Linked DNA regions of Homo sapiens: region 1 is linked to region 2. Evidence: fine-mapped expression QTL. Tissue or cell type: pancreas. Region 2 holds a variant in brackets; the other region holds the start of a gene. All regions are shown on one strand. Distances are from middle to middle.

Region 1 (5,000 bases), 56 kb before region 2:
AAGACAGGGAAGAGATACATAAGTGAAATGATACGGTATCACAGAAAAAACGTTGAGCAAAATAAGTCAGATTTTTTTTTTTTTTTTTTTTTGGAGATAGAGTCTCGCCGTCGCCCAGGCTGGAATGCAGTGGTGCGATCTCGGCTCACTGCAAGCTGTGCCTCCCAGGTTCACGCCATTCTCCTGCCTCAGCCTCCTGAGTAGCTGGGATTACAGGCACCCGCCACCACGCACAGCTAATTTTTTTTGTATTTTTAGTAGAGACAGGGTTTCACTGTGTTAGCCAGGATGGTCTTGATCTCCTGACCTCGTGATCTGCCTGCCTCGGCCTCCCAAAATGCTGGGATTACAGGCATGAGCCACCGCGCCCAGCCCCCCTTTTTTTTTTTGAGACAAAGTCTCACTCTACTGCCCAGGCTGGAGTGCAATGGCACTTTCTTGGCTTAGTTCAACCTCTGCCTCCCGGGTTCAAGCAATTCTCCTGCCTCAGCCTCCCAAGTAGCTGGGATTATAGGCATGTGCCACCACACCCAGCTAATTTTGTATTTTTAGTAGAGATGGGCTTTCACCATGTTGGTCAGGCTGTTCTCGAACTCTTGACGTCAGGTGATCCACTTGCCTCGGCCTTCCAAAGTGTTAGGATTACAGGCGTGAGCCACTGCGCCTGGCCCAAATTTTTTTTTAAAAGTACATACTGTGTGATTTCATCATACAAAGTTCAAAACTAATCTATAATAATGGAAGTCAGGAGACAGTTGCCTTTGGTGCTATTGACTAGGAGAGTAAGAGTGAGGCTTTTGGGGTAATGAAAATGTCCTATATCTTGTTCTGACGGTAGTGATGAGGGGGTCTGCATAGGTTCGAATCCATTGATTTCCATGTAAACTCAAGATCTGAGCACCTAGTAAGGTGTGATTTTTACCACATATGTTATATACATAACAATAAGTAATATTTATATTATATATGTATAATCCTATTATGTACGATTATGTGCTATAAAGAAAATAAGGCAGGAAAGGAGGATTGGCTATAGCCGCCTCCCGGCCTCCCTGCTTCCATCCTTGCCAGTGACCTCCCCCAGGTACCCCCTCACCATCCCCACTCTCACTTCCACCTCCCCAACCTCCTCAAGTCAGTTCTTCCCAGAATAGCTAGAGGAGTCTTTTTTAAAAGATAATTCCCACAATGCCATTCTCTGGATTCAAAGCCATCACTGGGGCTCTGAATCCACACCTGGCCTGGCCCCAGGGCATTTGCGCTTGCTGGCCCTCTGCCCAGAGCACCCTGTCCTGCACTCTTTGCCCGGCTGCCTCCCCCTCCTGCCTCAGGCTGAAGACTTCCTGGACACCAGCAGAGCAGTCCCCATCACCTGGTTGTACTTTGTTCACAACACTTATGACTCTCTGAAATCATCTTATTTATATGTTTAAAAATAATTTATTTCCCCCGCTAGCAACCTCAGCTCTGGGACATGGATCTTCTGCTCTCACGTTCACTGCTATATTTCTTAGCCCCCTTGGACTAAAGTCCTTACACATTGCAGGTGCTGAATGCATAACTGTTGAATAAATGAGAATATTGTAACTGTGTTCCATTTATCTCTCTGAGCTCATCTCCCATGATTTCCACTCTCTCTTACTCCTCTTTGCTATTCCTTGAATATGCCAGCACATTTCCGCCCCCAGACCTTTGCCCTGGCTGTTCCCTCCACCTTGAATGCTCTTCTCCCAGAGACCCCCCTGCTTTGCCGGTTAGGAAGGACTTCCCTCCCTTTAGGTCTTTGCTAAAATTTCACATTCTTAGTAAACTCTTCCCTGAGCACCCCATTTAAAACTGCAAACCCTGGCCAGGTGCGGTGGCTTACGCCTGTAATCCTAGCACTTTGGGAGGCCAAGGCGGGTGGATTGCTTGAGGTCAGGAGTTCAAGACCAGCCTGACCAATACGGTGAAACCCTGTCTCTACTAAAAATACAGAAAAAAAAATTAGCTGGGCGTGGCAGTGGGTGCCTGTAATCTCAGCTACTCGGGAGGCTGAGGCAGGGGAATCGCTTGAACTCAGGAGGCTAAGTTTGCAGTGAGCCGAGATTGCCCCACTGCACTCCAGCCTGGGTGACAAAGCAAGACTCTGTCCCAAAAAAAAGAAAAAGAAAAAGAAAAAAAAAAAAAACACCTGCAAACCCTTCTCACACCACCACTCCCACAGCTCGATTCTTATTTTCCCTTTCCTTGCTTATCACCTGAGATAGATGCTATTATTAATAGCATCTATTGTAATGTTTTACTTCTTTGCCTCACACACTAGAGTGACAGCTCTACAAGGGCAAGGATTTTTATCTTTCTTGCTCACAGCCCTATCACTAAATGTAGAAAAATAATTTACATATAGTAGGTGCTCAATAAAAATGTGTTGCATGAGTGAATATCTGTCTCCCTTACCACATGTGCGCATGGGCAGGGGGGCTCTCTCACATTCACCTCTGTGGCAGCAGCACCTGGCACTGCCCTGGCACAGCTTCCAGGACCAGGTTGTTCTCTCTTTCCTCCGAGACATCTTCCACCCAACACTCCCTGCTGCCCCCACTTCTGGCCTTCTCCCACACTAGCCCCCATGCCCGCTCACCTCCCCAAATAGTACAGGCCTTAGGACAGTGGAGGGGGAGGTGACTGCACTCTCCAGCTTTCTTACCAAAAGGTTGTATTTTGTTGGAGAAAGTGAGCCCCTGGTGAGGAGGAAGAGAAAGAAGAAGAGAAGGAACAGCAGCAGCAGCCATTGGGGTAGCATCATGGCCCACAGGTCGTGGTGGCTTTTCTAGGGTCCAGCGAAATATCCTGCACGCCGACCATGTGGGTGTCCTCCCAGCTGTGGGAACACCATGTAAAACCAGCACCCAACCCCGTCAGAATTTTCCCATCCTGCACAATACTCAGGCTAGGCCAATCAGCAAATTCCACCACAATAATTAGTTCAGGCAGACTAAGCCAATCCAATCAGAACCGATCTTAGGATGTTTGCTGAAAATTGTGGAACAGAGATGTTTTCTTTCTCTGAAAGGCACAGTATTGATGTACATGGTGGATTTGTGGTTAAGAGCCTGGCCTCTGGGGCAGGATTGTCTGGGTTCAAGTCTCAGTTCCAACCCTTACTTTAGGAGCCTCGATACCCTGTTTGTAAAATAGGGATAATTATAACACCTACTATAGCCCTGTTGTGACAAAAAGATGAGTCAATACAGTTAAGAAAGCACTTTGGGCCAGGCGCAGTGGCTCATGCTTGTAATCCCAGCACTTTGGGAGGCTGAGGCAGGAGGATCACTTGAGCCCAGGAGTTTGAGACCAGCCAGGGCAATACAGTGAGGCCCTGTCTCTATTAAAAAAAAAAAAAGAAAAAGAAAAAGAAAAAAAATTGGCCGGGCATGGTGTCACACACCTGTAGTCCCAGTTACTTGGGAGGCTGACGTGGGAGGATCTTTTGAGCCCAGGGGGTTGAGGCTGCAGTACGCTGCGATCGAGCCACTGCACTCCAGCCTGGGTGCTGTCTTAAATTTTTTAATTAAATGAAAAAGAAAGCACTTTGCACAGTGTCTGGCACATAGGAAGTGCTCAATAAATCCTACCTGTTATTAGGTGACACCTGGAATGTTTGTGACTACTGGGAAGGAATTCAGCCTGAGAGCTGCTGGCTCTGGCCCTACCTAAGGGTTGCCTGACCTCTGGACTTTCATTTCCCATCACCAGTAAATCCCCTCCTCACCTAGACCAATTTGAGTTGGTTTTTAAGATACTTGCAGCAGAAAGAGGCCTCACTGCTACCCCAATGATATGACCTAGGGCAAGTCATGTCGCTTCTCTGGGCCTCAGTTTCTTTGTCCATGCAGTGAACCGACAATACCTGAGAGAGCGGAGGCATCCATGCACCAGGTCCCTTTCCCACCACAGGCATTTCTGCATTTATACTTTGCACATTCTCACCAACTCTCTAATGATCTCTACCCTTTTGTGCCCCACAACCCGCCCCGCAAAACATTCAGATACCTCCACCTAGTCTCTCCCTACCACACACCCCTCCATAGGCACCCCAACATACACTCTCCAGGTACATTCCTCAATCCCGTCTCTCCCACACAGCCCTCCAACCAGAGAATCAGCCCTTTCCCAGACCCAGCCCCTGCTCCACCACACCCTCCCTGTGCCATTCCCTTCCTGCAGTTCTACCCTGACCTCCGGACAGGGCCAAATCCCATTAGAAGCTCATTCATGCCTCCAGTCTCCCCTTTTGCCTGCCCCCTGGACTGGTACAATCTCCACCAGGTCCCCTCGCCCAGAAAGTACAGACAGAGGCCAAGGACAGGAAGTGACTTTAATGTCTCAGGAGCTGGATTTGGAGCAAGTTGGTGGCAACCAGGGCCTATGGCCCCAAGGGAGCAGTGACCAGCCTGCATCTTCCTCTAAATCATATGGCACCGGCGGGAACACATCAAGTCCTTGGATATGCACGTCAAGCCCATCCGGCAAGGGCAGATGATGTTGGTAGCTCCCTTGGTCTGCAGGGAGTGGGTATGAGAATCGGGAGTCACCAGGATGCAGGAAGGATGGGGACTTAAACTTCTTGGGGACCAGAACCAAGAGTACCAGGCCTGGAGTAAGACAGACCTGGGCTGTCTCTACAGCTTATAACTGCGTGACCTTCAGCAAGTCAATGAACCTCTCCAGCTCGGTTTCCTCATCTGTCAAATGGGGACAGTAATAGTAACCCCCCTCATAGGGTTGTTGTGAGGACTAAATGAGATAGAGCAGATCAAGTGGTGATAATAAAAAGACCCTTTAGGCCATGCGCGGTGGCTCACCCCTGTAATCCCAGCGCTTTGGAAGGCCGAGGCGGGTGGATCACCTGAGGTCAGGAGTTTGAGACTAGCCTGGCCAACATGGTCATGGACTAATAATATAAAAATTAGCACATGCCTGTAATCCCAGCTACTCCAGAGGCTGAGGCAGAGGAA
Region 2 (5,243 bases):
AACCTCCGGGGCGCGCGTGGGCCCCGCAGCCCTGCCCACTCACCGGCCTTGGAGCACCCAGACCTAGCCATCCCCCATTTGCCCCTGCTTGGGTACCCCAGGCTTGGGTGGCGCCTGGATTAGCACAGCTGGGGGAGGGAGCAGGTGTGGGGAGCTCTACGAGCAGAAGGAGCCACCCAGGCTGCCGCCAGCGCTCTCCAGCGCTCAGTCCGTGCTTCTCCAGCGCTCAGTCCGGGGGGCGGGAGGAGGATAGCTGGAGCTCGCCAGCCCCAGACTTGCGAGACCTGGGACGCAGTCACGTGACAACGGAAGCCCGTGTTGAGGGGGCCAATTCAAGCAATCCCCAGGAGGAGCCTCCCCTTTCCTAGCCCCCCTTCCCTGATCCTTCACAGAAGCCTGGAACACGGAGACTCCAGGGATTCCCGGGGCTGGCAAACCAAGCCCAGCCCTTTTGGACGGTTTGGGAAATCCCTGGCACGACGCCGGGAGTAGGGAGAGCCCAGACACTGGCGAGTGGGTGTGGACGACAGGGTGAAAGAAGGGCAAGGCCAAGGAAGACGACCCCAAACTGCCCCTGGAATCTGACCCTTCCCTGTGTTTAGCTCCAAACCCCTGGTTTATTCAGAGCCACGTTTTCTCCTTACCCATCCTTCTGTGGAAAGACATCACTAAGTGCTGGTCCTAAAGATCCCACCCTCTCCAAACCAAGGAGGGAACAAAGCATTTATATCGCACGTTTACCGTGTGGAAGGCTCTGTATTGGGTCCTGCTAAAGAATGTCACCATGAGGTTAAGACACAGTCCTGAAGTCCTTTGTTCTCCCTCCTTCCCACCTCCACAGTTTGCTGTGCCATTTCTCATGCCAGGAGTGCCTGTCCTCCCTGTCTACCCATCTCTGCTGCTCCAGCTCATAAAGCTTCCTTGAAACAGTGCCAGCCAAATCTGATTCCTGTCTCCTCTGAACGCCCAGCACACTCAGTTTGTACCTTTCTCACGGCACAGCGTGTGGCCTGTCTCATATTCTAGCGATCTGTTTACTAATCCTGTTCTTCTAACCAGATTAGAAAGTCCTTGAGGCAGAAACAAAGTCTGCTTCTTCTTTGAGCCCTCTCCTCCACTGCCCCCGCCTCCCACCACCATTCCAACTCATCCCCCACAGGCCAGGCTTGGCACCGGAGTTCATGTTCAATAAATATTGGGTGTATTGAAATGATATCCTCCCCTTGGGCAATTGAAGAGACAAACACGCTGGATGTTAGGTTAAATAATAACCCAAGCCAGCAGGTGGTGAGTACCAAATGTGTGTAATAGCTATAGGGACTCAGAAGAAAGAAGGTGGTTCTAGGGAGAAAGATATGGGAGAAAGATCCCAGGAGGTTCTAGGCCTTGAGCTGTGTGTGTGTGTGTGTGTGTGTGTGTGTGTGTGTGTGTGTGTGTGGAGGAGGAGGAGATGGGAGGGGTGGACGTGACTCATTCTGCTTGACATCACCACAAAACAACCTCCACGCTAGGCACTTCACATGCATTATCTCTAATATTTAAGGTTGGGGGGATAGGATTGGGAGGCTTGGAGGGCACAGTGCCCAAGCCAGGCCTGCCTTCCCAAAGCCAACCAGAGCATAGAGGCAGCCTTGGATCTGGGCTCCCCACCCTCAGTCCCTGGGCACTGCCTGTTCTCTGGCCTGCCACTCCTACGTACTACACCCAAGAGAGCTGCCCAGCACTGCCTAGTTCTGGATGCACTCTGGTCCCACCCTGGTGAACAACTGCCTGTGTGACCTTGGACAAGGCACTTCCTCACCGTCATCTGTACCTCTCTTGCAGCCCTTACAGGCTGTGACTTCCAGTCAGTATCCAAGTGATGCTTGCCGCCTTTCCGGGTGTCACCTGGGCTGCTGGGGCTGTCTGCACCCTACATTCCCCCAAACACCCCCATGCATACACACTCATTGCTCCCTCCCAGTCTGGAGCTGCTGAGAGGAACAGGGTACAGAGTGTGAGCAGGGATGGTAGGTTTCCTGTGGTTGCAAAAGGAACATCAGGACTTTCCCTGCGGTGCCCCGAGCTGTGGGAGAAGTGGGGGAGGAGGAGGCAGGGCCAACCTCGAAGGAACCTCTGCTCTCTTCCCTCCCCATTTTAGTGCTCACAGCTCTCAAAAAGGCTGGTACAGTTTGTTACGCTGGGACCGGAATGTACCGTGTGTTTCATATGGCCTCTGTCCAGTCCTACACTGGCCGCTTTATATTTATACTTCCTTCTTTAGCTGTGGCATCCTGCTGTCAGTTACCCCTGCTCTCATCTCCCCATCTTCCACTTGGGCTCCCCAACTCCCCATGGATCAAGAAATGAGTCTCCTGCTTCCCACTCCCCGTCTTTAGGTTCTAAACTCTTGCTGGGGGTGGGAAGGTGGGGTGCAGAGAGACCCTGGAGAAGTTAGACTCCAGAAGGGTGAAGCCCCCAGTCCTTTCTCTCTCCCATCACCCAGCCTTGAAACTGCCTCTAAAGCTGTGGAGTCTCCACACCAGGTCTGGAGTTTCTCTGGACCCTTGAGGCTGATCCCTCTCCCCTTGCCAGCCTTGTTTCCCAAGCCTTTTAGCAATATTCCTGAGCCCAGCTAGACAAGTGACAGCACTATGTAAGTTGCCTCCAAGAGCTCGGCAGACCTGGTAATCACAGATCCTTCCTTGTCAGTCACAGAGAACAGAGGCAGAGGTGGGGGCCTCGCGGCAGGGAGGGGGATCTACCCATCCTCTCACCCCCAGGAGTCACACATTCCTAATGGAATTTGACACTTGATGATTTCTCAATGATTTTCTGAGTTGTGACCAGTTTAATCTCCTCAAAGTGGCTTAGATATTGAGAGATCAATACGTTTATGATCTGGCCTTTCTCCCCCAGGAGCATGGGATATTATTATTCACATTGATGGCTAATCTTGATTGCTTATATGGAGAACTATCTCTGCACACCAACCCCCAACAGCGTTTGGAACCCAAAGACTGTGGCACAGGAGACTCACTACTAGACCCAAGGTTGAGGTTCAGGTCTTTATTTACAGGATCCCATTTACTCCTCACAACAATTCTGGGGTGTGGGTGCTATTGTTAGC[C/T]GTCTTTGACAGTTAAGGAAACTGAGGCTCAGAAAAATAACAGAGCTCAGCTGAGATTCACACTCAGGTCTGTCTGACATCAAAGCCAGCACCTTTTTTTTTTTTTTTCTGAGACAAGGTCTCACCCTGTTGCCCAAGCTGGAGTACAGTGGGGAGATCATGGCTCACTGCTGCCTCAACCTCTGGGGCTCAAGCAGTCCTCCCACCTCAGCCTCCTGAGTAAACGTCCCAAGTAGCTGGGATTACAGGTGTGAACCATCACACCTGGCCAAAGCCAGCACTTCAAAATAGTCTTCAAGATTGCTCAGATTATGTAACTAAAATGCAAATTCTCCATTTCTCAAGCCTCAGAGTCTTACTCCCTTCTCCCTTCAAATGAAGGAGAACTCTGCCTCCTTGGAGCTCCTGCATGCCTTGAGGTGTGATCTGACAGCTAGAAAATTGTTTTTAGCCCATTCGACAGGCTGAAATCTGGATACTAGCAAGGCCCCAGAGGACAGTCTCAGCAGTGGAGTTGGACAGTCAGGCCTGCTGGCTGTGGGCTCCGTGTGTCTCTTGGCTGGCTGGCATGCCTGCTGCCCCTCACCCTTCACCCAGGAATAAACTTCCTGGTTGTATTGATTTGGCTCTGGGATCCAAAAACCAGGGGCTGAGCCTGGGTTCCAGGGCTCTGAAGTCAGGTCTATCTGCAGCACCCAGTGACAGTGACACGGCCTCTCTTAGGACCCGTTTACAGCAGGCCTTTGGGAGAAAGCACCACCATTATGTCAATCCCTGGCACTTATATCAGGCTGTGTACATTTAATGTACCTGCCTTAACTCAGTATGATCTTAATATGCCTCTAAAGTAAGAATCAGACTCGCTTTCCTGCTGGGAAAACTGAAGCAAGAGCAGCTAAGTTGCTTGCCTAAGGGCAAGAAACTAGGTTTGTAGTTGCTGTCTGGGGTACTTTGTTTCCTATCACAGGGCCTCTCCTGAGCTAAGAGAGGAAAAGTTTTCCAGGATGTCCTGATGATGTGTGGGCTTTCACTCAGCCCTATCACCCAAGGAAGGGACCACAGCACCACACTGCCCGTGCCAGCCTTATCTGCCTACCCCCAGGGGATGAAGCAGGGACCCCAGACGTAATGTATTTAGTTGGTCTGTCCTGGTCTCTGGCAATCTGTCCAATATGGCTCTCATGGGCACATTTTGTCTTTCTGACCTTCTTCTTTCTCTGAGTTCATTCTTCTTTGTTTATCTTTCCTTCTGAATTTCTCTCTCCTTGTTCACTGAGAGTCCTGTTTACCTCCATCTATCGGTGTTTACTTTTTATTTTTGCTTTTTGTATTTCCAGTCTTCTGGGAATTTTCCCAAGATCCCTTCTGCCTTCTTCCCTCTGACACCATCTTTTTTCCCAGGAAGCATCTTCCATTTGTTCCTACCTCCACGCCCTATGCCTCACCTTGCCCCAAGCTTCTGCCAGTGTCAGATTGCTCAGCCTTGTTAATCCAGTGGGCACTTACAGAGCACCTACTGTGTGTCCCAGGAATTGAGTTAATGCCCTGGGAACCAAAGTCCTACACCTGTGCCTGGGCATTTATTTATTTATTTTTATTTTAATTTTTATTTTATTTTATTTATTTATTTTTTGAGATGGAGTCTCGCTCTGTCGCCCAGGCTGGAGTGCAGTGGTGTGATCTCAGCTCACTGCAACCTCTGCCTCCCGGATTCAAGCAATTCTCCTGCCTCAGCCTCCCAAGTAGCTGGGATTACAGGCCCCCGCCACCACGCCCAGCTAATTTTTTGTATTTTTAGTAGAGATGGCGTTTCACTGTGCTGGCCAGGATGGTCTCGATCTCCTGATCTCATGATCCGCCCGCCTTGGCCTCCCAAAGTGCTGGGATTACAGGCGTGAGCCATCGCGCCCGGCCATGCCTGAGCATTGATTAAGCACCTACTGTGTGTGTGTGCCAAGTATTGTGCTACAAACTGGGGACACAAAACCTGGTCGCTGCCCTCCTATGGGCTACTTGGAAAGTCTGAGTCCCTGGTTTACTTGGGAAAATGCACAAAAACGGATCATTATAATGTCTTGGGAAGTTGGGGACTGGGTGTGGCCAGAGCAGAAGGTTCAGGGAGAGAGGAATTGGC

The links. PIP is the estimated chance that this variant, and not a neighbour inherited with it, causes the effect. A credible set is the group of variants that fine-mapping cannot tell apart.
Region 1: CLPSL1 starts here. The variant in region 2 is the best candidate, but not a certain one, in a credible set for the expression of CLPSL1 in pancreas (GTEx, PIP 0.61).

The regions. Positions count from the first base shown.
Region 1 is chr6:35,778,899-35,783,898 of GRCh38, reverse strand. It overlaps CLPSL1 (colipase like 1), which reads right to left and starts at 2,880. Exons shown (of 3, transcript NM_001010886.5): 1 at 2,690-2,880. The coding sequence starts at 2,788. It overlaps CLPSL2 (colipase like 2), which reads right to left. Exons shown (of 3, transcript NM_207409.4): 3 at 4,347-4,544. The coding sequence ends at 4,449. RefSeq lists an enhancer at 1,268-1,769.
Region 2 is chr6:35,722,732-35,727,974 of GRCh38, reverse strand. LOC285847 (a long non-coding RNA gene) reads left to right here. Exons shown (of 10, transcript NR_027117.2): 10 at 842-1,213. It also overlaps a transcript of FKBP5 not described here. Among named protein-coding and RNA genes, the nearest start is that of ARMC12, 12 kb to the left of the region's middle. RefSeq lists silencers at 1-51, 1,957-2,133. The variant C/T (reference allele first, on the strand shown) is at 3,110.